Regions from separate parts of the Homo sapiens genome. Here region 1 is linked to region 2. The links come from fine-mapping of genetic effects on gene expression. A gene starts in region 2. The other region holds a variant in brackets. All regions are shown on one strand. Distances are between the middles of the regions.

Evidence for each region. PIP is the estimated chance that this variant, and not a neighbour inherited with it, causes the effect.
Region 1: its variant is the best candidate, but not a certain one, in a credible set for the expression of PCSK1N in breast (GTEx, PIP 0.54).

What each region holds. Positions count from the first base shown.
Region 1 is chrX:49,203,573-49,217,720 of GRCh38, forward strand. CACNA1F (calcium voltage-gated channel subunit alpha1 F) reads right to left here. Exons shown (of 48, transcript NM_001256789.3): 27 at 12,810-12,956; 28 at 11,770-11,971; 29 at 11,514-11,672; 30 at 10,587-10,697; 31 at 10,247-10,330; 32 at 9,402-9,422; 33 at 9,095-9,223; 34 at 8,671-8,736; 35 at 8,326-8,417; 36 at 7,750-7,909; 37 at 7,393-7,520; 38 at 7,018-7,114; 39 at 6,729-6,831; 40 at 6,369-6,470; 8 more. The coding sequence ends at 1,565. Among named protein-coding and RNA genes, the nearest start is that of SYP, 10 kb to the left of the region's middle. RefSeq lists an enhancer at 5,700-6,899. The variant A/C (reference allele first, on the strand shown) is at 10,874.
Region 2 is chrX:48,827,345-48,842,562 of GRCh38, forward strand. PCSK1N (proprotein convertase subtilisin/kexin type 1 inhibitor) reads right to left here and starts at 8,266. Exons shown (of 3, transcript NM_013271.5): 1 at 8,075-8,266; 2 at 4,525-4,997; 3 at 3,752-4,111. The coding sequence starts at 8,188. The coding sequence ends at 3,916. It overlaps ERAS (ES cell expressed Ras), which reads left to right. Exons shown (of 2, transcript NM_181532.3): 2 at 1,737-2,525. The coding sequence starts at 1,780. The coding sequence ends at 2,481. RefSeq lists an enhancer at 3,588-4,088.

The DNA.
Region 1 (14,148 bases), 380 kb after region 2:
CACTGATTCAACGAGATGATCACTGTAATGCAGTTAGCACAGGGCCCAATAAATGGTTCATTTTACCTCCTACACATCTCTGGAATCCACTCACTTCTCACCATCTCCTCTGCCACCTCCTCTGGCTAAGGCGACCATCATTCCTGCCAATTTTAGCATCTCCAGTCTCTTCCCCCTCCCTTCTGTTTTCAGCACAGCCGTCAGAACATCTATTTAAAATGCAATGTTAACTATGTCACTACCCTACTCAAATCCCTCCCATGGCTCCCCACTGCTTATAGGAAAAATCCCAGAGTTTGGGACCTGGCATTCAAGGTTCCACCTGATCTGGCCTCAGTGGCTTCTCCCACCTCATCCCTCAACAGTCTCCCTTCACTCTCTGTGCCCTGCCCATGACTTGCTGTTCTCACCTAACTCCAGCCCAACCACTTTAAGCCTTTGTTTCAAGGCCTAATGTAACTCAATCTTCTCAGTCCTAGTCTCCAATTCTGGCTTCCCTCAAATTTCAGTCCTGGCTTGATTGGCGCAGATTATACAAATGAGACACCCCTGTTCTGGGAGCTGGGAAGAGTTCCTCCCCGACTGGTGGTCTCATCCTGCACCACTCCCAATGCTACCTTCAATTCCTCTGGAGTGGGGCTGACTCCCACTTTGGATGAGACCTGTCCCGTGTTTCAACCAGTTCAGTTTGCCCCGAGAGAAACCCAGAGCCGGTGCCTGGCACATAGTAAATGCCTGATAAGCCTTCAGTGAGCGAATGTAACCCCAAAGGCTGGGTGAAGAGTAAAGCTGGGGCAAGAAGCAGAGAGGACCTCTGGGATCTGTGTGGGATAAGAGTAGGTTACTGTTAGGTGGTCTCAGGAAAGCCAGGTGGGCCCTGAGTGGGTTCCCCAGGGCTGGGAGCCCTGACCTTTGCTGTCACCTATGTTGTCTACTGATGGATTTAGGTTTTCTTTTCTTTCTCAGGCAGAAAGTGGGAGATGGGAGACAGAGCGATCTCAATTTAGCCACCCTAAAATTCCTGTTGCCGTCAGAGGACCCCTCTGCCTAAGATGCATCACATACCAGGCCGATTCCAACCTCCAGGCCTCTCCCCTGGCAGGATTCTTCTCTGGGTTTCCTTGTCCTTTCCTTCTCATCCGTCTACCCTTCCTAGTTTGACCTGGCTGAGCCCTGGTGAAATCTCTGCCTCTCTTCCTCTCTGGGTCCAAGCACCCCTCACACCCGCTCTCTCCCCTTTCCTCCATCTCTGTCCAGTGCCCTCCCCCTCCCCCCTCCTCCACTCTGCCTCCAGCTTTTTTTGGCTGCTGTCTCTTCCTCCTCCTCCTCCTCCTCCCTCCTTCCCTGACGCTGAATAATCAGGCCTGGCTGTCCTGGTTTCTGGAAATACCCGTGTGTGGGCAGTGGCTCAGGGCTAGAACAGGGGATGGATGGATGGGGGCCCCTGGGCAGCCCCAGACCCCCAGTGCAAAGACAACAAAATCCAGGGATGTGGTCCATGCCTGCCTCCTGCTGGGGAGGGGAGGGCAGGAGGTTTATTGAGCAGTTGGGGAGGGGTGGGAATTCAGAGGGCGTGGACGCAGGCCATCTCGTCTCCCAAGTCCTCCTCATCGAAGCGGGAGAGGATGGACTCCTCGTCGCTATAGAGAGAGCTGGTTCCCTGTGCCAGCAGGTCACTGGCAGCATTGTCCATCTCATCCAGCGTCAGGCGACACGCATCTGCAATCTCCTGCTTGGCCAGGGCCACGAAACGTGGGTCTCGAGCAAAGAGGCCCAGACCCTCTGAGATAAGCACCTGGGGGCACAGGTGGGATCAGTGTTGACGGACGGCACAGTGTGCACAGAAGGTTCAGTGTGGATAAATGACGTGCCCATGAGGGCATGTAGGGAAGTCAGTGGGGGACAGGGGTGAGCAGAGGTCGTAGGGCAAAGGGATATCTACATGCACAACACAGGACCTGGGGACTCCTTTCCGTCCTCCTCCAGTACCCACCTCCTCCCCTTCTCCCCCATCCGTCTTGTCTATATGCCCTCTGGACTCACAGCCTCCACCAAGCTGTCGGCACTGCCCCTCTTCCCATGGCTGGGGTCCGAGTGGGTTCCAGGCACGTGCAGACAGGTGAAGGTGCGCAGTGGGCCACTGGATCTGCCGAGGTACCCCTCCCCCGCTGCGCCCTCTTCCACCAACAACAGCGGGGCATACAGGAGCCGACCCCGCTGAGGTGGTGTTGCCCAGGAACCCTGAGCCAGAATAAACATCAGAGGGGCAGGGATGGATGAGTAGGGTATGAGGGTCTAGGACTCACCGCTGTGCCTACTTCTTTCCCTCAGTATACAACTGGAGTGAAATTGAATGGGTATAAGTCAGGCTTGAGTTTATTTATGTAAGAGTGCAGGAGGCCTGGGTTTAAATGTCAGCTCTGCCACTTACTAGCTGCATGATCTGGGGTAAACCTCTCAGGACCTCAGTTTCCTCACAAGTACAGTGAGCATTGTGTGCATTCATTCATATGTGTCCTGTTCTTCAGAAGGCTCTGAGGCCAGGCGCGGTGGCTTATGCCTGTAATCCCAGCACTTTGGGAGGCTGAGACAGGCGGATCACCTGAGGTCAGGGGTTTGAGACCAGCCCGGCCAACATGGTGAAACCCCATCTCTACTAAAAATGCAAAAATTAGCCAGGCATGGTGGTGAGCACCTGTAATCCCAGCTACTTGGGAGGCTGAGGCAGGAGAATTGCTTGGACCCGGGAGGCAGGGGTTACAGTGAGCCAAGATCTCAACACTGTACTCCAGCCTGGGCAGCAGAGCAAAACTCTGTCTCAAAAAAAAAAAAAAAAAAAAAAAAAAAGGGCCTGATATGTGCTGTGTTTGAGAAATTCAGCCTAGGCTGCCCCCATCTCTCCAGACCCCAGACCCCAGCACCACCTCCACAGCCTCACCTGAGCCCTATTGGGCCCTGAATTTCGCCCACGATGATAGGTGCCTGGGATGGGTAAATCCTCACAACTGCCCTGGCGCTGCAGACACTGGATGGTGAAGGAGGGCTTCCGACCTGGGGGTGGGTGGGGCACCAGGGGCAAATAGCAATGTCAGTGCTTCCCCAGATCTCTGTCCTGCAGGCCCGTGGGGGCCCCTTGGATCCATCCCTGCTCTCACCTGCAGGTGTGGGGGGCAGCAGACGGCGGCGTGGTACCAGGTGCCCATCCATGTATCTCTGAGCTCTGTGAGGTGGCAAAAGGACTGAGCACGGGGGAGTCCCTGCCTGCTCATCTAGGTAGGAAAGCCTGTGTGGGTGGGAGGGCCAGGGGTGAACTTGGGTCTGGGCCTGGACCTGGGCCTGGGAGATGGGGCACAAACAGTCCTCCCCGACCCAGTTCCCACCCCTCCTCCACCCCAGCTCATGGGTTCATCCCATGTGGCATGGCCAGTGTACCGATCAGGGACTTCCTCATCCTCATCTTGCTTGTTTTGCCCTTTGGTTCCCTTGGGCTGAGAATTTCCTTCTTCTGGGATGGTGAAAATGAGAGCCCCAGAGCCTCTCCTGGGGAAAGGGAGGCACGTTAGGCAGACCAGATCCCTCAATATGTGGCCCTGGACCCCTGGTTCCTCTCATCCCATGCCCCAACCCTTACAGAAACACTGGGCTTTTGGATTTTTTTGTTGAGGACAAGTCACATAAAATTAACCATTAACCATTTTAAAGTGACCATGGGCTTTTGTTTAATAGATGTTCATCTAATTAGGACTGAAAGTTTCAAAAAAATCAAAGTTGACCTGTAGAGAGACACCTTGAACACAAAACTGGGCATGTATTAGGAGTGGGGGGAGCCTGTAAAAGCTAGGCACTTTATTTTTTTATTTCTATTTTTTATTTTCTGAGACGAGGTCTTACTCTGTCACTTAGGCTGGAGTGCAGCGGCATGATCTCAGCTCACTGCAGCCTCAACCTCCCAGGCTCAATTTATCCTCCCACCTCAGCCTCCCAAGTAGCTGGGACTACAGGCATGTGCCACCATGCTCGGCTATTTTTTTATTTTTTGTATGGACGGGGTCTCATTATGTTGTGCAGGCTGGTCTTGTACTCCTGGGCTCAAGCGATCCTCCCACCTTGGCCTCCCAAAGTGCTGGGATTACGAGTGTGAGCCACCGTGCCTAGGCAAGCTAGACACTCTGAAATTTTTTTTTAAAATTTTTCTTTAATCTGCTTATGTATTGTCTAGCAGCTAAGTGTTTGACATGCATTACCTCATTTCATCCTTTCTTTATCCCTGTGAAGTAAGTGCTTTGTCATCCCCCTTAAACAGGTGAGGAAACTGAGGCTCATAGAAACGAAGTGACTAGGCAGGGCACGGTGGCTCAAGCTTGTAATCCCAGCACTTTGGGAGGCTGAGGTGGGCAGATCACCTGAGGTCAGGAGTTCGAAACCAGCCTGGCCAACATGGCAAAACCTCGTCTCTACTGAAAAAAAAAAAAAAAATTAGCCTGGCATTATGGCGCACGCCTGTAATCCCAGCTACTCGGGAGGCTCAGGCAGGAGAATCGCTTGAACCCGGGAGGCAGAGGTTGCAGTGAGCCGAAATTGTGCCACTGCACTCCAGCCTGGGAGACAGAGCGGGACTCTGTCTCAAAAAAAAAAAAAAAAAAAAAGTGATTAGCTCAAGGTCACTTAGCAAATGGCAGAGGCAGAATGTGAACTGAAACTCTTGGTTTCACACAATGTGCTTTTTGCATTAAACCTTTGTATTGCCTTTCTCATATGAATCTCTTATCACCCTCTATTCTTACCTGAGCCCTTGAAACACCTCCATTCTTCCCAAATTTCTGCTTGAAGGCCTCTAGGCCCTCCCTCCCACCCCCCTCAACTTCCTGCCTCCTGAATTGCCTCTATCCAGTGTCTAGTCCTTGCCTTCCCTCACAATCTACTTCCAGACACTTGATAATACCTGTGGGTGTTGGATCCAGCCTGGGGCACACTGGGCTGACTGGAGGTGGGAGTCCCCCTGTCATCATCACTGGGCCCAAAGGAGAGTGAATCTGGAAGTCTGTCCCCGACAGGCAGAGACACAGAAATCCCGGAGCCCCGGCGAGCTGAGGGCTGGGAGACCATCGTGGCCTGTGGAGAGTCACAGGACTGAGTGTTGCATGCACTTTGTGGCTAAGTCATTTGGTCATATAACATGTCTCCCCCACAGGTCCATGAATGTGGGCCTTGCCCTCCAACAGCAATGGTAAATGTCAAATAAATAAATACGTAAATAAATAAATAAATATTTGCGATAGGGTCTTGTCCTGTCACCAGGCGGGAGTGCAGTGGCATGATCACAGCTCACTGTGGCCTCATCCTCCCAGGTTCAAGCAATCCTCCTGCCTCAGCCTCCCAAGTAGCTGGGACTACAGGCTTGCACCACCACTCCTAGCTAATTTTTAAATTTTTTTGTAGAGAGGCGGTTTCACTATTTTGCCAGGACTGGTCTTGAACCCTAGGGTTCAAGCGATCCTTCCACCCTGGACTCCCAAAGTGCTGGGATTATAGGCATGAGCCACCACTCCCAGCCTCAAATAAATATTTTTCTATTGCAGAGGGGGCTTCTCTGGGGGAGCTTCTTCCCAGAAGCAGTGTCAAAATCACTCAGGGGATTGACGAAGTATTTTACAATCAAGTTCCTGGGAGAGTGAAAACTTGTCCCCACTTTGTTAGTTTCCAAGTCCTTTTCATCTTCCTCCTCCACTCCCTCCTGCCCCTCTTCTTCCTCCTCCTCTGTGTCACAGGTGAGGGCCTGCCGCATCTCAGGACCCAAGTCCTGCAGGCTCCGCAGACCAGCCTGTGGGGGTGGAGAAATAGGTAAGCAGGCAGCTCAGGGTCTGAACTTTCCCTCTGTTTCCCCTGCAGGCGGGTAGGGTGGGGGAAGGAGTCCTTCAGCCACCCTGGCCCTCCGTGAGGCCTGGGGCCTCAGTTTCCTTATCTGTGACATGGGTTTCACAAGATCAAAATGGGGGTCAGCCTCAGCCACAGCACTGCCACACGTGCCCATCCACACTAGGCCCTGCCCCGAAGACCTGAAGGGCGGAAGAGGTGCTAGGGGCGGCGTCGTTGCCTAGTAGCCCTTTTTCTTTCCTCCGCCGGAATTTGCGGAAATAGTCCTGGATCAGAAATGTGGCGTAGAATTTGCCCACGGTGACCTCCTCCTCTAGGGGCAAGGGAGAGAAGGCAAGATCACACAGGGGCCCTCTGACCCAGCCCACCTCGCCGCCTCTCTACCCACCAGCATGGACTTCCCCTCGCCCTCTGCCCAGCGCTGGTTTTGTGGTGGAGAGCGATCATCTGCCATTCAGGGGCTGGCGCGGGGAACTGGGGCGGGGATAGCTCACCGTCTGGTGGGGGGATGACCTCATCTAGCAGCTTCTGTTTCATCCGCTTCCAGATCTTTTTGATGACAATCCGCAGCTCCTGGTTGGCTTGCTCCAGGTTCCCTGCGTTGGAGGAGGATGTGGGGCATGAGCCAATAGGAAGAACCTCCACAGCTGCCCCCTCACTGTTGGGTGGGGGGAACTTCACAAGCTGCTACCGCAGATGCACACCGCCCCCATTGGACGGGGTGGGGGGAAACAGGCCTGGAGAATCCTGTCACCCATTCTGGGGTTCAGAGCTAGGAGTGGGGCCCATGATTCAATGAGTTTGCTCCTTGCACCCTCCCCAGGAACGATCCCACTCCTGCCCCTCCCCTACACCTTCTGTTTTGATCTTCAGGGATGTCCGGACCAGGGCAAAGAGTGTGGCGTTGAATGTCACCGTCCCATCTGAGTTGAGGGGCATGTTCATTGCCACAAGTCTCTGCAAACACGAGAGACATGAAACCCACTCTGGGAAAATGCCGGGTATGCAGGAACGAATGTCAAGGGGCAGAAACCTCTGAGGATGCGATCAAACACCCCTCCCCACCCAAGGCAGATCCCTTCCCACCCTTGCCATGTGATAGACAGTTCTCTCAGGAGCCTGGGGGTGGGCAGGTGCACAGACCTTGCAGGCCACTCGGTGTGGGCACAGCTTCCCAAATCCCAGAGGGGGCTGGATACGTCTCAGCAGGGCAACCACATCCAAGTGTTTGATGCGGCCCCTGGAGGAGTTGGGGAGGTACCACTGGATTGGCGATGCCCCCACTAGCCCTTTCTCAAGGCCCCACCAGCTCATCACTACCTCCTCCTACCAATACCCCAGAGCTTGCCAGGGAAGAACTGGAGGGCAGTCAGAGAGGGCAGAGGATGGGGCAGTGGAAACTTTGGGGCATCTATTGACTGGGTAATGAGATGCAGCAGTCGGAGGTTTGGGGGCTAGGGGACTGTGTAGGGCAATACATTGTCCCCTGGATTCTAGGTAAGGGTATAGAGGGCATACTTGGCCCCAGGGTCATATTCAGACCAGATCCTCTTGAATTCATCAAGGTGATGGGGGCCCAGGATGGACCAATCTCTGGTGAGATAATCAAAGTTGTCCATGATCACAGCCACAAAGAGATTTATGATCTGTGGGCCAGTGAGCAAGGGAGCAGTTAGGTGAAGGGCAGAACACTGTCATGGACGGATGGTGGGAGGCTGGGGCGGGCTTATATGGTCATGAGTCTCTGGGTTGATCTTGTCATCAGACCAGCCCTCTCACCCACTATGAAGATCTGGGCTGCCCACGTCACATCCCTGAGCCCCTCAGGGCCAGCCCCCGTGACGGTGGTGGTGGTTGTGAGGAAATGGTTCTCACCAGGAAGGCACAGAGCATGAAGAAGCTGATGAAATAGGCGATGGCAAAATTGCTACCACAGGTAAACTCTTCACCAGGGCCGAAGTCAGACTCAGGATCACACCGATTTCCGGGAAGGCTGGCAAGCATTATCTCCTGCCATGCCTCACCAGTGGCACACCTGGTGGGAGTCACACAGGGGTAGCATCCTGAAGGGGAGGCTATGAAGTCATGGTAAATGGAGTTGGGGGAGGACTGGGGAATGAGGAGATGACCTACTTCTCACCAGGGGCTACATCTGGCACAGATAACATTTCAATATTTTAACAGCCAGTGTGGCCATGTTGACGACAGTCATGTTTGCATCTTACAGATGAGGCACTGAGACCTGAGAAGGGGAGGCGTCTTACAGTCAGAAAGAAAATGGCTGAGGCTAGAATACTCTAACAGACTCCTCACATCATAGCCAGGAAACATCTCGGGCTGTATGGAGCCCCATGCTGCCATATTATTCCCATAGCTCAAGCAGTCTGGGGCTCAGAGAGGGTGGGTGGGCACCCACGGGCATAAGGTGGCAGGGGAGTGAGTAGATGTCACCTGAACAGAAGCAGCACAGCCTGTGGAAAGGTCTGGAAGTTGTTGTTTCGGTTTATCTGTGTGCCATCCTGAAGAGCCACCTTGCCGAACATCTGTGGACACATCAAGGCTGTGTCAGTGGGGTGAACCCATGCCCCACCCATTTCACACCTCCTAATACCTAAAGGAGCCTCATAACCCTGACAAACAGGGCATCACTGCTGATCTCATTTCACAGATGTGTAGATTGACCCAGGGCCGTCCAGCTTGTCTGTCTACCTGCCACCCCTACTTTGGGGCTATTCTTAACCCATCCCCTGCCAGCAGAGGAGTGCTTAAGGGATGCTTCCTAGGGTCCCCACTTGCCTGCATGCCAATGACGGCATAGATGAAGAATATCATTGCGATGAGAAGAGCCACATAGGGCAAGGCCTATAGGGATGGGGGAGGGGGGCAGAGAATAGATGCACAGGCTCAGGCAAAGAACTATAAGCCCCAGAATGCACTGCTTTCCCTGGCCTGGGCCTACTGGGAGATGCAGTCCATCTCCAAAGTGCCAAGGACTGTGGTGTCTCTCAAATGTGAACATAGTGTTAAGTAGATAGAGTAAGGTCAGTGAGACCAGAGGTGTGTTGGAAACTGAGAGCCCAGAAAAAAGAGAAAATTGGAATAATAATTTGGAAATGGGTATGGCATGTTGGGAGATGTAGTTCTGAGGGTGGTAAAGGGGCAGGCTGAGAAGTGTGAAATGGGGGCGAGGTATGGTCAAAGGGATGGGGTAGGGGATTACCTGGAAGGACTTGATGAATGTCCAGAGCAATGTGCGGATCCCTTCACCCTTACTGAGAAGCTTGACCAGCCGCATAACTCGGAAGAGGCGAAAGAAGGTAATGGAAATGCGGGAGCTGTCCTCAGAGCTCTGGGGTGAGGGGTGCAGTAGGGATGCTCAGTTTGCATTTACTCCAGCTATCTCCCTATCTCATGCTTTGGCCCTCCCAGTACCCAAATCACTCAGGCCCTAGGGTAATCTGGAGGGATGGAGGGACAGAGGGACATGGGAAAAGAAGCAGAGAGTCCCTGTTATTAGGGTGGGCTACCTCGCCAAGGTGGCCACCATTCTGGAGGGAGATATGGCCAAGAAAAAGGTGATACAGGAGATGATGACATCATAGGCCCAAATGAACAAGGTGAGATATGATGGAGCAGATATAGGGGGTGATGGTGGGGTCATTACACAGGGGACAATGGGAAAGTTTATATGGTAGTGGATTAGGATTAGGAAAAAGTGGGTAATGGGAATGGAAGGGAGAGGAGAGAGTAAAGGAGGTGATGGATCAGAGACATTGGAGCCAATAGAGGAAATGATGGAACCAGTGGTGTCATAGAGATGATGGAGATGAGAGAACCGATGGAGAAGCCAATGGAGAAGCCAGTGATGGAGATAGGGAACCAGCAGCGTTGTCAGTTGAGGTGACAGAACCATGTAGTACCCAATGGAGGTGATGGAGCCAATGATATAGTCAATGGTGATGACAGAGCCATGAAAGAGCCAGTGTCAGAGATGATGAAGTTGGTGGAGAAATGAAGCCAATGAAGTCATCAGAAAAGATGGAGCCAAAGCAGGAGCCAGTGAACATGACGGAGCCAATGGATGGGGGATGTAGAGGCAATGAAAGAGATAACAGAAATAACAGGAGAGGCATTTCAGGAGATGGTGGAGCCAGTAGATAGGTTACAAAATGGAATGAGAAAGCCAGTAGAGGGGGACTTTTGCTGAACCCAACAGGGACTCAGAAGAGATAGAGCTAGAATGAGGACTGAGTCTCCAGGAGTAGGGAGGATGTGCGTGGGAGCCACCCACCCACGTGAAAGGGAACCCCGGGATAGAGGTGAGGGAAGGTGTATAGGGCGAGAGTGGATTAGTGGAAAGGCCAGTTCTCACATTGACTTCAGTGACGGCAATATCCACTATGCTGCCCACCACAATAAGAGCGTCAAACGTGTTCCAGGCATCAGTGAAGTAATGCTGCAAGTAGGAGAAAAGCAGTGCCCTGTCTTCTCAAAGCTCGCAAGCCAGGGTAGGGGGCCAGTAGTAGTAGGGGGCGCCGGAGGGGGGCAGGGCTTCGCTTGGATCACACGATGGGCCTGCACCTGAGTCCCTCTCACTCCCTAGACTCACACTCCCTGGCTGCTGCCCGCATCGCCAACCCCAGAGCTCTGCAATGAGCTCCACTCCCAAGGAATTCATCCACTGGTGGGTGGGGCTAGAGAAGGGGGGCCACCTTGGGCTTGAAGGCGATGATTTTGAGCACCATCTCAATAGTGAAGAGGCCAGTGAAGACCATGTTGAGGATGTCCATGGCATAGTTGAAGGGAGCAGTCTGCTCATAGTGCTGCAGGAGAAAATCAGGTTGAGATGGAGCCTGAGGCAGAGATGCCGCCACACCCAACCAAATATTCCCTGGCCTGGGCTGAGACGAGTCTGGGGACTTGATTGCACTGTGTATTGGTCAAACCTCTTGCACTGTCTGCCTCCCATTATGGATACTGGAAAGTTTAGTTCTTGATT[A/C]CTAGCTTTTCTTGTAGTTAGGCAAGGCCAGGTTGACTAGTGAGACATAAACATAAATCTGCTGTTGGTTAGCAGCTTGTGTAAAAAAAATTTTGCTTTCCGATGAAAGGATCAAATAAGGAGAGGCCCCAGGTGCAGCTCTCCCTGCCTTGAGTGTGGTTTTGATGCCTGGAGCTGTGATCATGAAACAACAATCATGAAAATGAATGCCAACTTGCTAAGAATGGTGAAGCAGAAAGATAGAGCATGGGTCCCGGATGAACAATGAACAAACAGCCTACCTCTGCACTTCTCAATACATGAGGTAATTACCACAGTTCATTGACTCCAGGAGGCACATCTTTTTACATTTTAGAATCTCTGAAATTGGGGCGCATTTTATAACAAATGGCAACTTACAATGGCCACTGGCTACTTTTTTTTTTTTTTCCACATTCTTACATCTCCGAAATCAGAATGCAACTTACAAGTACTGGCCATAGACTTAAAGAAATGTGGCAAATGTCTTTATAGCTTAAGTTGCTGTTAGTTGGCAGGGGGTTTGTTATTTGCAGCCTTAAATGTTCCCAATGGTTCCCAAGGGATTATGTGGAGATAATAGGGTCAGGAGTCTGGCGGGGGTCAGGCAGGGATCTCAGACCTGCATGGCTAGGGCAACTGTGTTGAGCAGGATGAGCAGGAACATCAGGTACTCAAAGGCAGCAGAGTTCACAGTGGCCCACACACGATACTGATGCGGGTTCTTGGGGATGTAACGGCGGAGTGGCTGGGCCTTGAGGGCATATTCCACACATTGACGCTGCATACCAGGGCAGGGCATGAGTGAGCAGTGGGGTCCTGAGGCAAGGAGGGAAGGGTTGGTGACCATCCATAGGGGGTCAGGGGTCAGAGGTCACCTGGTTCTTGTCCAGCTCACAGTTTTGGTACTCCTGCTCGCCCTGGGCACGGAAAGTGATGATGACGAAGCCCACGAAGATGTTCATCATGAAGAACGCAATGATGATGATGTAGACAATGAAGAACACTGAGATCTCCACACGGTAATTATAGATGGGGCCGTGGTCCTCTGCATATGCATCGATGGCCTTGTATAGCAGTCTGTGGGAGCCAGAGGGGGGGTAGAGGTGGGGGCAGGTGAGGGGATATCCCAGCCCCCTCAGACCTGCCCCCAGTCTACTTATCACAGACACCCCAGAGTTTCCTGCCTGGCACCCCAAAGACCCCTAAATCTCCTGACCTAACCACCTGGGACCTCCATACATACTCTAAGAGACCTCTACCAGGCCCTCAAAGAGTCCAAATCCTCTGTCCCATGCCCTCAGAAACCCCCATAGAGTCCTCCAGAGAATCTCCATTCAGAACCTCAAAGACCCAGAAATCCCCTAAGTTTCCACAGACCTTCAAATCCCCTTCTCCAACCACTTGGAGACCCCCATGCGCCTCCCCAGAACTTCCACACAAGCCCCCAACGATCTGTAAATTTATCCCTGTCCCATCAACTTGAATCCCCACTCCATCTCCCCACAGAGCCCCACAATGAGTATCCCAAAGACCTGCACAGCTTTCTAGAAATCGCTGAATCCCTGCTTCATCTCTTCAGAGACCAATCCCAGTCCCCTCAGACCTCCACTCTGTCCCCCCAAACCATCTCCAATCCTTTCCAGGCTTCTATCTAGCTACCTAGTCCCTTAGAAACCGCTGTCCAATTCCTGGAGACCCCTCACTCAAGTCCCCAAAGAACCCCCACCCAGCTTCTGGGAACTCCACCTCTACAGTCCTCTGATACACCCACCACTCTCCAGAAAACCCTATCCAGTCTCGAGAGACCTTCGTCACATCCCCAAGGTACACTCCCACCCATTCCCAGGAGATCCCAACCCAATCCTGCAGAGACCCCTGCCTCATCCCCTGATAAACCCAGGGCCCTGTCCCTCACGCAGGCCAGCCTTCAAAGGTGGAGACAGTGAACAGGGCCATCATGGCTGAAAGGACATTGTCAAAGTTGAAATCACTGTTGACCCAGAGCCGCTCCCGGACCAGGGGCCGTGACACGTCTCCATCTGGGTATACCAGGAAGGAGCCCCTGTGGATGTGCAAACAGGTTAGATGGGTGAGGAGGGGTGAGGAACTGGGGAAAGGGTCTGGGGTCTCCAGCATGGAGGCAGCAGGACATAGTGGTGGAGCAATATGTTCTAGGTTCAAATCCTGTCCCTCCATGTCCTGGCTGGGTGACCTTGCGCATTTACCCTTTCTGTGCTTCTGTTTCCCCATTCTAAGAAATAAGGATAATAACAGAATCGATTTCCTGGCTTGTCACAAGGATTAATAAATGTCACAAGTCAATAAATGAGACTAGTGTCTGGCACATAGTTGGCATCATTTCATCATCACCATTATCATCCTCATCATCGCCCACCAGGAAAAAGTAAAACGAATAATAGCCAACGTTTATTAGCAGTAACTATATGCCAGGCACTGAACTAGATTTTCTTTTTCTTCTCTTCTTTTCTATTCTCTCTTTTTTTTTGAGACGGAGTCTTGAAAAAGACTCTGCCCAGGCTGGAGTGCAGTGGCATGATCTTGGCTCACTGCAACCTCCGCCTCCCGGGTTCAAGCGATTCTCCCTCCTCATCTTCCCGAGTAGCTGGGATTACAGGTGCACAACACCAAGCCCAGCTAATTTTTGTATTTTTAGTGGAGACGGGGTTTCACCATGCTGACTAGGCTGGTGTCGAACTCCCAACCTCAGGTGATCTGCCTGCCTTGGCCTCCCAAAGTGCTGGGATTACAGGCGTGAGCCACAGCGCCCGGCCCAAGCTAGGTTTTCTGTGTAGCAACTTTACATTGTACAAAGTACATTTTCCATGTAGTAGCTCATTTACTCTTCACAACAGCCTTGTGAGATAGGCACTGTTTAGCCCCGTTTTTCAGTTGAGTGAAATGGAACTGAGTAAGTTTAAGAAATGTACCTAAGTCTCATGAAGTGGATTTGAACCGTAATGTCTGACTTCACAGCCCAGGCTTTTAGCTACTACCCTCTACAGGAGTCTCAAGATGGAAGCTGGGGGCTCAGGGTGGGAATGGTGATTGCTAATGGGTCTGGAGTGGAATGTAGGTCACTTGGGGAATGCGGAGAGGGATTTGGGGGAGGTATCGGGGGGCCGCCGAAGACTTGGTGAGATCTGAGGGCCTCTGCAGTTCTTGGGACAATTCTGGGACTATATCTTTGGGCCTTGGTGAGATCTAGAGGCTCTAAAGTCTTTGGGAGGGGTCCT
Region 2 (15,218 bases):
CCTCTCCCTCCACGTGCGCCGCCGCCTCGCCCCTCCCCGCAGTCCTCCAGGTCTTCTTCCTGTCCCCAACCGTCGGGGACCCCCAAGCTCCGTCCTCCGCTTCCTGCTCTCTTTATCCCGCCCCCGCTCCTTCTGGGCCAACGCCGCCAGTGACTATTCCCAGGGATCCCTCAGAGCTGAGGACGCCGCGGCCGCATCCCCATTTGGGACCTTGCCCCGACTCCGACCTCCGGATCTCCAGCTCCACCAAACCTCGAAGCCACCATCCGCCCCCAAACTGCCGCTGCGCCAGGCTTTCGGAGGGGAGTCGTGGCAACAGCCATTAGGATGCACTAAGCAGGGCACTTCCTGAGCCCAAGGACACCGAGGGGCATTCACTGAGTGAATGGGGATGTGCTGCTAATAACTAACACTAATTGACCACCTGCCGTGTGCCCATCCTCTTCGAACATGCAACTTCCTTGTTCCTTATCTTGTTACTGTCTCTTTCTCTCTGCCAGAATCCAATCCTCACAAGGGCAGGGACTGGGGTCTGTTTTGTTAACTGCCATATCACAATGCCTGGCACGAAGGAAGATTCTTGAATTAATGAATGGAGATTAAATTATAATTTAAAAGCCTGGCATGAACTGAGCACCTTCTGCATGCTTATCACCCGCTACTGACATATAGTTCACTTTTTTTTTTTTTTTTTTTTTGAGACGGAGTTTTGCTCTTATCTCCCAGGCTGGAGTGCAAGTGGTGTGATCTCAGCTCACTGCAACCTCCGCCTCCCGGGTTCAAGCGATTCTTCTGCCTCAGCCTCCCGAGTAGCTGGGATTACAGGCGTCCACCACCACTCCTGGCTAATTTTTTTGTGTTTTTATTAGAGACAGGGTTTCGCAATGTTGGGCAGGCTGGTCTCGAACTCCTGACCTCAGGTGATCCACCCGACTCGGCCTCCAAAGTGCTGGGATTACAGGCGTGAGCCATTGTGCCCCGCCCCCTTTTTAACCTAGTTTGTTGTCTCTCACCCCGACCAGAATATAACCTTCATGAGGGCTACAGTTTGTTGTCTATTTATTGCCCAACTCCATGTCCTTGCCACACAGTAGGTTCCCAATAAATGTATGTTGAATAATTAATAAAGACTACATTCTAATGATAATGGCTAACAGACCACGTGATTTACATATTTATTTGGTTTATTATATTATCTGCCTCTGCCTTTTAGAACATAAACCTTCTGGGGGTGGGAATGTTGGGTCCCTACTGTCTGGCAGGCACTGTGCTGGGCTAGGGTTCAATGGTGACCAAAACCGGCAAAATCCTGCCCTCCCTCTGTCATGGGGAGGAACTGCTAATGGGCATGGGGATTCTTTTCTGGGTGAGGAAAATGTTCTAAAATTTACTTATGGTGATAGTTGCACAACTTCGTGAATATGCTAAAACCCGTTAAATTGGACACTAGCTGGCTGAACTTGATGGGATGTAAATTACATCTCAATAAAGCTGTTTGGGAAATCCAGCCTTCACAGTTGTTGATTCGCGTGAGGAGGGAAGGAGAGATGGGGGGACGTGGGACAGGGAGAAAACAACATAAATCATATATATATAGCATGCAAATTGGAAGGTGATCAGCACACAATAGGCATTCAATAAATGTTGAAATAATGACACCCCACTGTCTCCTTGCCCTCAAATGGTCTCCCCTAACGTATCCCCTGTTGTCTTGCTTCTTCTCTTCCCACTTGCAGAGCCTGCTGCCCACGTCTCTTCCCTGAGCTGCCTGCTGGGGTCATGGAGCTGCCAACAAAGCCTGGCACCTTCGACCTGGGCCTGGCCACATGGAGCCCTTCCTTCCAGGGGGAAACCCACCGGGCTCAGGCACGCCGCAGGGATGTTGGCAGGCAGCTGCCTGAGTACAAGGCTGTGGTGGTGGGCGCCAGTGGCGTGGGCAAGAGTGCGCTGACCATCCAGCTGAACCACCAGTGCTTCGTGGAGGACCACGACCCCACCATCCAGGATTCCTACTGGAAGGAGTTGACCCTGGACAGTGGGGACTGCATTCTGAATGTGCTGGACACAGCAGGGCAGGCCATCCATAGGGCCCTGCGTGACCAGTGCCTGGCTGTCTGTGATGGTGTGCTGGGCGTCTTCGCTCTCGATGACCCCTCGTCTCTGATCCAGCTGCAGCAGATATGGGCCACCTGGGGCCCTCACCCCGCCCAGCCCCTTGTCCTCGTGGGCAACAAGTGTGACCTTGTGACCACTGCTGGAGATGCTCATGCCGCTGCTGCAGCCCTCGCACACAGCTGGGGGGCCCACTTCGTGGAGACCTCGGCCAAAACACGGCAAGGCGTGGAGGAGGCCTTTTCCCTGCTGGTCCATGAGATCCAGAGGGTCCAGGAGGCCATGGCGAAGGAGCCCATGGCAAGGTCCTGTAGGGAGAAGACCCGGCACCAGAAGGCCACCTGCCACTGTGGCTGCTCTGTGGCCTGAAGGTCTTGGCCAAGAAATGTAGACCTTTCCCCAGGCCAGGGTGATTGTTCATTTGACATGAGACCCCTGAGGCAACTAGCTTTGAGGGACACATCAGGTATACTAGGGAAAGATGGACATCTCTCTTGTTTTCACTTGGTGAGGGGCTTTTTGGTAACATGGGAGTGCCTAATGTTGCTTTTGTTATGTCAAGTTGAAAGATTTTGTGCAAAATTAAATAAATGGTGTTTTGGGTTTCAAAGCTGCCTCCATGCCGAGTGTTGTGTGGGTGGGAGTGAGACTGGGTAGAATGTTACTTGAGTTGTGAGAATTCTTTCATTCAAGAAATTCAGGGGGAGCCCACTGTGTGCTAGGCTCCGCTTTATATATAAGGGAGGTAGAGGCAAACAAGACACTTAAAAATCCTTGCCCTTATAGATATGGCATCAGGCTAGATAGTGATAAAGGCTACGTGTTAAAGGCAGGTGAAGGAATAGGGTGACAGGTCCAGGAAAGCCTTCTTGAGAGTAGGTGACATCTGGACAAAAACCTGAAGATATCCAGAGGCAGAGGGACTAGCCAGTGCAAAGACCATGGCCACAAATCAGCTGCCACCACAGCAACCCTCAGTATATCCAGGGCCTGGAGCAAGAGTACAGGTAGGCCTCTACACTACATAACTAAATATGTAAACGTTCAGACATTACGAATCAAGCTTTACAAAGTAAATGAAATACACCCTATCCTACTTTGGCAAATACACTTTATTAGTGACCTGGATACCCAGGCTCCAATTTCTCAGCCTTCTCAGAGTTCCCTGCCAGAATGTGCCTGTCTGCCAAAGAGTGTGCCTGTACTGGGGCCTCCCGACCCTCAGTGCCCTCTCCCTTTCTCTCCGCTCTCTCCTTTTCTCTTCCCCACATCAGGAGGTGTTCATGTGTGCCTGCGACATCCCAGCCAGCACCTCAAGCTCTACTCACGTGCCCCACAAAGCCACCCCTTGGCCCTCAGGAGGATGGTCCCTTGGAAGATGATGGTGCAGGCCCTGAAAGTGGCCTCAAAGCCTGGGATCCCCATACCCAAGTGAGGCCTAAAAGGGGGACACAAGATCCGCGATTGTCCATGTGGATGTCTTCCCCTCCACCCCTAGGAGAGACATAGACTGAGCAGGTGATTGCTCTAAAGTGCAGGACCCAGGGTAGAGTCTCCTCTCTCCTGGTCTAAGGGCAACCACCACCGCGGGGAACCACCAGCCCCTAGAAACTGCCACTCACACAGACAAGCACAGAGCTGCTTCAGATCATGTTTATTGTGGGGCCAGGGGGTAGGGATCCTCGGGTGAGAGGGCTGGCTGGCCGGGGTAAGTTGCTCTGGACGTGCTGGCGGGGAGCAGTCCTGGTGGCGGGATGGCGGGGGCACTTCTGGGTCCCAGGGTGCACGGGATCCGGGCAGTGCTCAGGGTGGCAAGAGGCGGCGTGCAGGCACCTGGGGCGCCGGGGTCTCTAGGCGTTTCACACGCAGCAGCGCCCCCAGCACGCCCTCAGGGGGCAGCTCAGAGCCCACATCGTGGTCGGCGGCACGGCGGAGGCGGCGCGGGGCTGCCACCCCCTCGGAGTCCGCGCTTCCCGCAAGAATCCGTCCCAGCAAGTACCTGCAGGGCCGAGCGCAAAGCAGTGAGGCGGTGTCCGCGGTGGGGCGTTCCCCCGCCCCACGCTCGGGGCCCAGAACGCAGGATCCACAACCACATACTGCCTGGGGACACGGTTCCCTCCCCAAGAAGGCGTCCTCAGCCCACTGCTTTCAGTAGACAGCCGTCATCGCCTTTCATCCCAGAAAACTGTGGCTTCCCCGCCTCCCTCTCCCCTTCCCAGGACCTGGGGTCCACTTCCCCCACTGAGTCAGCCAGGCATCCTTGCCTGGACTCCCTGGATCCAGGACCTCACTCCCTCTTAGGCCCCAGGACTTAGGGGTTCGCACTCCACGGGGTAAGCAGGCTTCCCAGTTCCTCGCCCTCGTCCTCTCCGGACGCAGGCGCCCGACCCCTCCCCACCCCCTGCCGGGCACCTCAACAGCTCGGGGTCCACGTCGGGTGTCTCGTCGCCTGCCTCCTCAGCATCCGGGCCCGCGGGGCCGTCGTCGTAGACCGGGGGCCGGGGTCGGAGCGCCGCGGCGGGGACGGGCGCGGGGACAAGCTGGGCTGCTAGGGCGGCAGGGTCAAGGCGGGCGCGGAGCAGAGCGCGAGCGAGCTGCGCTGCAGGCGCGTCGGGGTCGTCGTCCAGGCCCAGAGCCGGATCAGAGTTGCGGGGGGCGCCCCAGACGCGCAGCAGCTGCGCCAGGACGCGCGCCTGCTGATCCTCAGCCTCCTGCGCCTCGGCCCGCGCCCGCTCCTGACGTTCGGCCTCCAGCAGATGCGCCAGCGCCCGCGCCAGCTCCTGCACCGCCCCCGCCGCCTCACCTCGGGGCACTGACCGCCGGAAGCGGCGAGGAGCGCCAGTCTCAGCCAAGGGCGGAGACGCTGCGCTTAGGCCGCGGGGCTCCTGCGGGAAAATGAGGTGGGGGAAAAGAGTTTGTCAGCGTCCGTCGAGACAGGGACCCCCAGCCCGGGAAGCTTCGTAGGCCTCAAACATCCCAGATGCCACCAAAAGCACCGTGACCATCCAAATATACCCGGACACCCCTAAGGCCACTGGAAACCACCAAATATCTCCAGACGCACTTAAGACCACCAAAGATCCCCAGACACCCCCCACCCCCACCCCACAGCGCGCCAGTGATCCCTTGGTGACTCTCATAATTCCTCCCTCCCCACCCCCACTCCTGGAGACCGAGTTTCTTCATAAGAGTAGTGATGGTAGATATGACAGTTATAGATTTTTCCATATTTAATATTGTGGACAATAGGAACTATATGAATAAACTTGTTCATATATCATTTGGCATGTGTACAAGTTCATCTGTAGAATAAATTACCCAATGACAAATTTTCAGTTCAAGCAGTTTTCAAACAATTTCCACAAGTTTAAAGAAATAAAAGAGGGTACCAATAATCTGAGCAAGGAATAAAAGATCATAAAAATGACTGTGAAGGTTTGGAAAAGAAACATACAGGCCACATATAAATATGTTTAAAAGGAGTGATGCCTGCAACACAAATAGTCAATGAAAGAGTAGTACACAGAAGATACAGAGAATTCCTAAAAAGTAGTAAGAGAAAAACAAACTCATACAGAAATAGAAAAAATACATGATCGCCTATTTCACAAAAATGATTACTAAACATATGAAAAATTGGGCCACGTGTAGTGGTTCATGCCTGTAATCCCAGCACTTTGGGAGGCCAAGGCAGGAAGATCGCTTGAGGCCAGGAGTTTGAGACCAGCCTGGTCAAAATGGCGAGACCCTGTCTCTACAAAAAATAAAACCAAAAAAAATGAGCGGGGCACAAGCCCATAGTCCCAGCTACTTGGGAAGATGAGGTGGGAGGATCACCTGAGTCCAGAAGCTCAAGGTTGCAGTGAGCCCAGATCGCACCACTGCACTCCAGCGTGCATGACAGAGGAAGACCCTGTCTCTAACAAACATAAAATAAAATTAAAAACCTCATTAGTAATCAGGGGAAAGCAAATTAAAATGCCAGGGAGATACTATGCATAATATAACCAAAAGATTGACCCAAATCAAAAAGTCTGATAATATGAAGTGTTGATATGAATGCAGAAAAATGGGAACTCTCATACTATGCTGGTGAGAATTAAACTGGCAAAGTAATTTTGCAGAGCGGTTTGACAATATCTAAAAAGATGCACATATCCTATGACCCACTCCTGGGATGTCACTCCCCAGAGCAGCTTTGGCACATACGCTACTGGTCACAAGTTCGTGAAAGATGACAGCAGCACTGTTCGTAATAGCATAAAAGGGCGGGGGAGAAAGAAAAGCCTGGAAACAGTCCAATGTCCACTGACAAATTGAGAATACATATATAAATCATGATGTCCTCATAGGATGTAATATTATGCAGCAATAAAAATAAATGAATTACAGCCACATGCATCAACTTGGATGAATCTCGTGACCAGAATAGAGCCAAGGGAAAAAAAAACGTCAAGTTCCAGAATTTCACTGCAGACTGCCTGAGACTACTAGACACCCTGAGGACTTCCTAGTGACCCCTAGTGACTACGAGGAACCAGTCACCCAGTATGATTCCGTTTCAATGATGTTCAAAAGCAGGAAAAACTAAACAATGGATTTTTTTTGAGAGCTACACATATGTGATAAGCTACAAACAAAAGTAAGGGATCAATGGACAGAAAATACAGAATAAGGACTGTGTGGGGACAGGGGCTGCCATGGCGAGGGGCACGCAGGGGCTTCTAACTCTTGGTCAGGCTCTATTTATTAAGCTGAGTGACTGCTACACGAGAGAGTTATTTTGTCATCATTCTTTACATTGTACATATATATTAAACACATTGTTACACGGATATAAGGTAACAGTTTTTTTTAATTCCCATCTTTGATGCAGACAGTATTGAAGAGCTAGAGGAGGATGCCTCTCCAAGTGCCCTTGCTGGCGCCCACCACTCCTCAGTCACCCCGGGGTATCACACTCACCAGCAATCACAGCCTCACACACACTCATGAGGACTGACAGGCCTGGAGATGTCACATATACAGCCCAACACTGCCACAGCCACATGCAAGGACCTGCACACGTTCACATCCGCAGCTGCTCCTGCAGTTACAATCGCCAAGCCACCCAGGTGCAAGGACATGCACCATCCTTAAAGACACAATGCAGCAGAGAGACATCATGGCTCCTCTCCTCAGGATGACACAGCTCCACAAAGAAACGGAGAGAAACAGTCTCAGGAACACGCAAACGAAATCCCAGGCACTTGGTCCAACAGAACCACTATGGAATGTGCACACGGAGATGCGAAGACCATTCCCTCTCAAACACAAACGAAATCACACACACACACACACACACACACACACACACACACACACAGAGAGAGAGAGACAGAGAGAGAGAGAGAGAGACACGCCCATAGGCCAAGCCAACACACATAATAAGGATTCACAAATATCCACACGGTGTCACTGAGAAAACAATCGGACGCACAAAAGAATCGCGCACAGAAGTATCCCGGTATCACACACACTACACACCCAGACGCACCACGGCACCTTTCTAGGACACTTGGAAGCGCTCAAACCAAAGAACACACACTTTCAAGGACACGACACCTCCACACCGCTCTCCTCACATCACACGCACACACACTGATGCGCGCGCGCCCTTTCTTAAAGCGCCTTAGTGCCGTGGACAGCGTCACAGGCACCGGGCACGGAGAGGTGGGCAGGGCACGGTTACCGGCGGCGCCCCGGACAACGCCACCCGCACAGGCAGAGACCAAGTCAGGTCTCAGGTGTGCCGGCGTGGCCTGGGCGCGGACCGGCGGCCGGAGCCCGGGCCACCCTCGTCGATCTCTCCGCACGTCCCGGGAGCCGGCTCGGGCGGGGGTGAGGCGGCGCAGCCCCAACCCCAACCCTCGCCGGTGGCATCCTCCCCCAACCCCCACCCCTCGCCGGACTGGGGTCGCACCTTTACCGGCCGCGCGCAGAGCGCGGGGGGCGGCCGAAACAGGCCGAGCAGCAGCAGCACCAAAAGGCCGACGCCCCCGGCCCGCGGCCCCCAGAGCAGCGGCGACCCCGCCATGCTGCCCCAGCGAGCCGGGCTCCGGACGGGCGGACTGGCTGGCAAGTGCGCAGTGCCGGGGCGAGCTGGCGAGGCTGCGGCGCTCTGCGGCTGCGCACGCCCGGAACCAGGCCCCCCCCCCCCCGCCCCCACCCCACCCACCCGACCGACGCAGGCGCAGCCTGGGGAGCTGGCAGCCCCACCAGACCTCCCGTCGCCATGGAGATGCCCAAAGGGCAAGGTGGAGAGCTGGCGGTTGCCATGGCAGTCGGAGGGCAGTTGCTGGGGCAACCGACCTTACTGTTACCTTAGTAGACAGGAAAACAGGCAAGAAAAATTGACTCAGTGGAGTGGAATGGGGGTCTGGTCCTCATCTCTCTTCCTGGGGGAGGAGATGGACTTTAGTTTGTTCATTAGATAAATAGTTAATGGATCACCCGCAGTGGGCCCGGCCCGCGCCAGGGAGATGGGTTCAATCTAGGTGATGTGACCATGGACAGCTCAGTTGGCCATTCTAAGGCTCAGGCTCTCAGCGGCGTAAAGGGGTTACTACTGACAGCCTCCCTCAAAGTGACCTTGGAGGTTTAGAATGACATTCAGTAGGAGCTCCATAAATGCTCCTTTCCATCCTCTCCTTGTCTCTTTGTGTTTTTTTTTTTCTGACAGTGTCTCGCTGTGTCCTCCAGGCTGGAGGACAGTGGCCGGATCTCAGCTCACTGCAATCTCCACCTCCAGGGTTCAACCAATTCTCATGCCTCAGCCTGCCAAGTAGCTGGGACTACAGGTGCCCACCACCACGCCTGGCTAATTTTTGTATTTTTGTAGAGATGGGGTTTCGTCATGTTGCCAGGTTGGTCTCCAACTTCTGAGCTCAAGCAATCGGCCCTCCTCGGCCTCCCAAAGTGCTGGGATTACAGGCGTTGAGCCACCATGCCTGGCCCCAGCCCAATACTTTCATCTCTCCATGGCTCTCTGTGTTTATCTTTCTGCCCTTATGTGCCCACAGCTCTCTCTGTGTCTTCCTCTCCCCATATGTCTCTCCTTGTCTATGACTTTCTCTCCTTTCATCTCTCCAACCGCTGTCTTGTCTCTGTCTTTATTTTACTGTCTATATCTACTTGTTTTCCATAGATAGATATATACATAGATACATATATGCATAGACTTTACCCATATATTGTTCCAGAAATAAGTTCAAGCCACTAAAATGACATATCAAAGGAAACAAGATCTTGAAAAAATGTATGTGTATCCATAGGGGGAAAAATGTTGGGGAGGAAATGTCATCAATGGTTATCTCTGGGGAGGTAACTAATGGTTTGTTACTTTCTCCTTTATACTTTTCTGTTGTCTGAAAAAAAAAAATTACAATAGGCCAGGCGCGGTGGCTCATGCTCGTAATCCCAGCACTTTGGGAGGCCGAAGTGGGTGTATCACCTGAGGTCAGGAGTTTGAGACCAGCCTGGCCAACATGGTGAAACCCCATCTCTACTGAAAATACAAAAATTAGCCAGGCATGGTGACACGCGCCTGTAATCTCAGCTACTCAGGAGGCTGAGGAGGAGGAGAACTGCTTGAACCTGAGAGGCAGAGGTTGCAGTGAGCTGAGATGGTGCCACTGCATTCCAGCCTGGGCGACAGAGCAAGACTCCGTCTCAAAAACAAAAAAAGATCATCTGAATAAATGAAGACACAATACATGTTCCTGGATGAGGCAATTTCATTTTATAAAGATGTCAAGTCTATCCAAACTAATATATAATTTCTATGTAATTTCAATTTAAACCCCAGCTGAATATTTTAAAGAAAATCAATTAAATGTACTTTTTATTTTGTTTTATTTTTAATCCTACTCCTTCTGTAATAAAATGTGTAATAAAATTTGTTTTGGTTTGTTTATTTGTGTTTTGAGACAGGGTCTCACTCTGTCACCCAGGCTGGAATGCAGTGGTGAAATCACGGCTCACTGCAACCTCCACTTCCCAGGCTCAAGCAATCCTCCCACCTCAGCCTTCCGACTTGCTGGGACTACAGGTGTTCCCCACCATGCCCAGCTAATTTTTGCATTTTTCTGTAGAGATGGGTTTCACCATGTTGCCCAGGCTGCTCTTGAACTCCTGGGTTCAAGTGATCCACCCACCTTGGCCTCCCAAAGTGCTGGGATTACAGGCATGAGCCACCACACCTGGCCATATTTTTAAATGTATATAAGAGTCCATGCAAAAATTTGTACACAAATGTTCAAAGCAGCATTATTTATAATAGCAAAAAGTGGAAACAACCCAAATGTTCATCAATAGATGAACAGATAAGTAAAATGAGGTTTCTCCATATCATTGAATATTATTCAGCCATAAAAAGGAATGAAGTGAGGCCGGGTGTGGTGCTGTAATCCCAGCACTTTGGGAGGCCGAGGCAGGCGGATTACTTGAGGCCAGAAGTTCGAGACCAGCCTAGCCAACATGGCGAAACTCCATCTCTACTAAAAATATAAAAATTAGCAGGGCGTGGTGGTGCATGCCTGTAATCTCAGCTACTCAGGAGAATCGCTGGAACCTGGGAGGTATGGGTTGCAGTGAGCAGAGATCGCACCACTGCACTCCTGAGCAACAGGGAGAGACTCCGTCTCAAAAAAAAAAAATCTCATGTATCCCATAAATATACACACCATGTACTTATAAAAATTAAAGATTAAGGGGCCGGGCATGGTGGCTCACGCCTGTAATCCCACCACTTTGGGAGGCTGAGGCAGGTGGATCACGAGGTCAAGAGATCCAGACTATCCTGGCCAACATGGTGAAACCTCGTCTCTACTAAAAATACAAAAATTAGCTGGCATGGCAGCAGGCGCCTGTAATCCCAGCTACTCGGGAGGCTGAAGCAGGAGAATCGCTTGAGCCCGGGAGGCGGAGGTTGTAGTTAGCCGAGATCGCGCCACTGCACTCCAGCCGGGCGACAGAGCAAGACTCTGTCTCAAAAAAAGGAATTAAAGATTAAAAACATTTGATATGCATGGTTGATTATCCTAGGTAAAAAGAATTACAGATAAATACAAATATGTATACATGAAAATGGATATGAGTTTTATTTGTTTATTGAAAAGTTATAGGGGCGAGGACAAAAGACTACAAAAATTAAGAAATAAAAATAAAAAGTTATTACAGCTTATTAATGGTAATATTATAATTAATACATACATAATTTTATTTATCATACTAAGTTAATTGTATTTTGAAACTGTGGAAAATTTTTTAATTTATTGACTATGTGTAGATTGACTGACTTCGAGACAGAGTCTCGCTTTGTCACCAAGGCTGGAGTGCTGTGGTGCCATCTCAGCTCACTGCAACCTACTCCCCTTGTGTTCAAGTGATTTTCATGCCTCAGCCTCCCGAGCAGCTGGGACTACAGGTGCACGCCACCACATCTGGCTAATTTTTGTATTTTTTGTAGAGATGGGGTTTTTGCCATGTTGCCCAGGCTGGTCTGAAACTCCTGACCTCAAGTGATCTGCCTGCCTCAGCCTCCCAAAATGCTGGGATTACAGGTGTGAGTCACCATGCCAGGCCTGTATCTGTAGATTTATATTTCCATGTATAACTAACTACATACATATACTTATATTAATAAATTCTCTACTGGAAATTATTACATGAATAATGTACAAAAGATGTAAAATTAGAATTTGTGTCCTTTTACTATGAAATAACTAAATTATTGTTTTCCTAGTTCAGTGGAGGTTTCTTTTGTCATCAAAAATAATCTATCTCTCTGTGCTTTTCGACATATTCTTAAATCTTTTTTTGTTGTTGTTGTTGTTGTTGTTTGAGACAGAGTTTCACTCTGTTGCCCAGTATGGAGTGCAGTGGCATGATCTCGGCTCAATGCAAACTCTGCCTCCCGGGTTCAAGCGATTCTCCTGCCTCAGCCTCCCGAGTAGCTGGGATTACAGGCGTGTGCCACCATGACCAGCTAATGTCTGTATTTTTAGTAGAGATGGGGTTTTGCTATGTTGGCCAGGCTGGTCTCCAACTCCTGACCTCAAGCGATCCGCCCGCCTCAGCCTCCCAAAGTGCTGGGATCATAAGCGTGAGCCACCGCGCCCGGCCACTTAAACCATTTTTTAAAAGAGTCCTTCTTTACCTTTTTTTTTTTTTGAGACGGTCTCACTCCGTCACCCGGGCTGGAGTGCAGTGGCGCGATCTGGGCTCAATGCAACCTACGCCTCCTGGGTTCAAGAAAGTCTCCTGCCCCAGCCTCCCCAGTAGCTGGGACTACAGGCACGTGCCACCACGCCCAGCTAATTTTGGTACTTTTAGTAGAGATGAGGTTTCGTCATGTTGGCCAGGCTGGTCTCCAACTCCTGGGCTCAAGTCATCTATCTGCTGGCCTCAGCCTCCTAAAGTGCTAAGATTACAGGCGTGGGCCACTACGCCCAGTAAGTACTTATTTTTGAAAAAAGTTTCTAATAAACGTTGTTTATTGCTTTATGATTCTGCAGTAATTATAAATATTTCTTGTGCTTAGGTATTTATGAAATATTTTGACTCCTCTAACAACTCTTTGTAATTCTGATTTTCCCAAATTCAGAATAAAATTGGTTAGATGTCTTTTCTATATAAACTATTTTGGGGCTTATTAAAATGATTATTAGGGCTGGGCATGGTGGCTCACGCCTGTAATCTCAGCACTCTGGGAGACTAAGGTGGGAGCATTGTTTGGGCCCCAGAGGTCAAGGCTGCAGTGAGCCATAATTACGCCACTGCACCCCAGCCTGGGAGACAGAGCAAGACTGTCTCAAAAACAAATTAAATTAAATTAAATTAAATGGTTATTAGGTAATCTAAAGATTTCTCCTTCACCTTATAAAAGGAAGGGCAAGAGAAGTAATTAGGTTTATCTAGAATGCTTCACATGTGAATTAATTCAAAATTCTTATAAGTGCTCTTTGGCTTATTAAACAGATTTTTAAAAAACTGACAAATCAAAAAGAAAACTTATCTTTCTATGCTAATTCTGCAAAAGTAAAATATGTTCTCATAAGTGTATTTTAATGATTATAGACTTTTTGTGTTTAAAAGAACCATAATTATGACACAATCAAGCACAAATCCTGGTATAAGAACTGTCTACAAAAAGATGTGTTTCCAGGATTCTAGATGCCCGCTTCCCTTTTTGTTGATGATATGTCTAAACAAGTATCAGGACTATTGCCTCAATTACCTGGGACTCTTTGGAGGCCTGTTATTTACTTTAGTTTTCGATTAGATCCAGGAGCCAAGGCGTAGCCTATGAAACATTATTGCTTCCCCTTCACACATCACTAGCCATTGCTGCAACACTCTGCCCCTCCTGAATGACCTGGGCGATGAAAGCCCCTTGTTGCTTACCTCTGCTGGGAAACCAGCCGCACCCTGCGCACACTTGCTAGAGACCCCCTCAGCTCTCCTGATTTAATTGTGTTGTTGGCAGTTCATACTCAAAAAGAAACACTAGTTGGGACTCGGTGGCTCATGTCTGTAATCTCAGCGTTTTGGGAGGCTAAAGCCAGAGGATCGCTTGAGGCCAGCAGTTCAAGACCAGCCTGGGCAACATGGTGAGACTCCATCTCCACAAAAAATAAAAGTGAAAACTAATACGAACTAAAGGAATTCCACTTTTTAAAAACTTTTATTATTATTATTATTATTATTGAGATAATGTCTGGCTGTGTCACCCAGGCTGGAGTGCAGTGGCAGTGATCTCTGCTCACTACAACCTCCGCCTCCAGGGTTCAAGTGATTCTTGTGACTAAGCCTCCCAAGAAGCTGGGACCACAGGCTCACGCCACCATGCCCAGCTAATTTTTGTATTTTTAGTAGAGATGGGGTTTCACCATGTTGCCCAGACTGGTCTCGAATTCCTAAGCTCGAGCAATCCACCTGCCTTGGCCTCCCAAAGTGCTGGGATTACAGGAGTGAGCCACCACACACAGCCCTTTTTTTTTTTTTTTTTACTTTTATATACCCTAGGAGTAGGTAGAATTTCACTTCTGAGTATACAGCAAAAAGAATTGAAAGCAGGAACACAAAGAGATATTTATACACCCATGTTCAGAGCAGCATTATTCACAATGGCCAAAATGTAGAAGCAACTCATGTTCCTTGATGAATGAATGGATAAGCAAATGCGATATATACATACAATAAAATGTTATTCAGCCTTGAAAAGAAGGACATTCTGACACCTGACAACATGAATGAAGCTCGAGGACATTATGCTAAGTGAAATAAGCCAGTCACAAGACAAATGCTGTATGGTCCAACTTATATGAGGTACTTAGAGCAGTCAAATTCAGAGACAGAGTAGAATGGTGGTTTCTAGGGTCTCGGGGGAGGAGGGAACGGAGTTTATCACTTAATGGGTGTAGAGTTTCAGTTGTGGAAATGAGAAGAGTTCTGCAGATGGATGATGACTGTACTTACACAACAATGCAAATATGCCGGGCGCGGTGGCTCATGCCTGTAATCCCAGCACTTTGGGAGGCTGAGGCCGGGAGATCTCTTGAGTTCAGGAGTTCGAGACCAGCCTGGCCAACATGGTGAAACCCCATCTCCACTAAAAATACAAAAAATAGCTGGGCATGGTGGCGCATGCCTGTAATCCCAGCTACTCGGGAGACTGAGGCAGGAGAATCACTTGAACCCGGGAGACAGAGGTTGCAGTAAGCCGAGTGAGACTCTGTCTCAAAAAATACATATTTACGGCCAGGTGTGGTGGCTCACACCTATAATCCTAGCACTTTGGGAGGCCGAGGCAGGCGAATCACGAGGTCAGGAGATAGAGACCATCCTGGCTAACACAGTGAAACTCCGTCTCTACTAAACATAGAAAAAAATTAGCCAGGCCTGATGGCACACACCTGTACTCCCAGCTACTCGGAAGGCTGAGGCAGGAGAATCGCTTGAACCCGGGAGGCAGAGCTTGCAGTAAGCTGAGATCGTGCCACTGCACTCCAGACTGGCAACAGAACGAGACTCTGTCTCAAAAAAAAAAAATACATACACACACA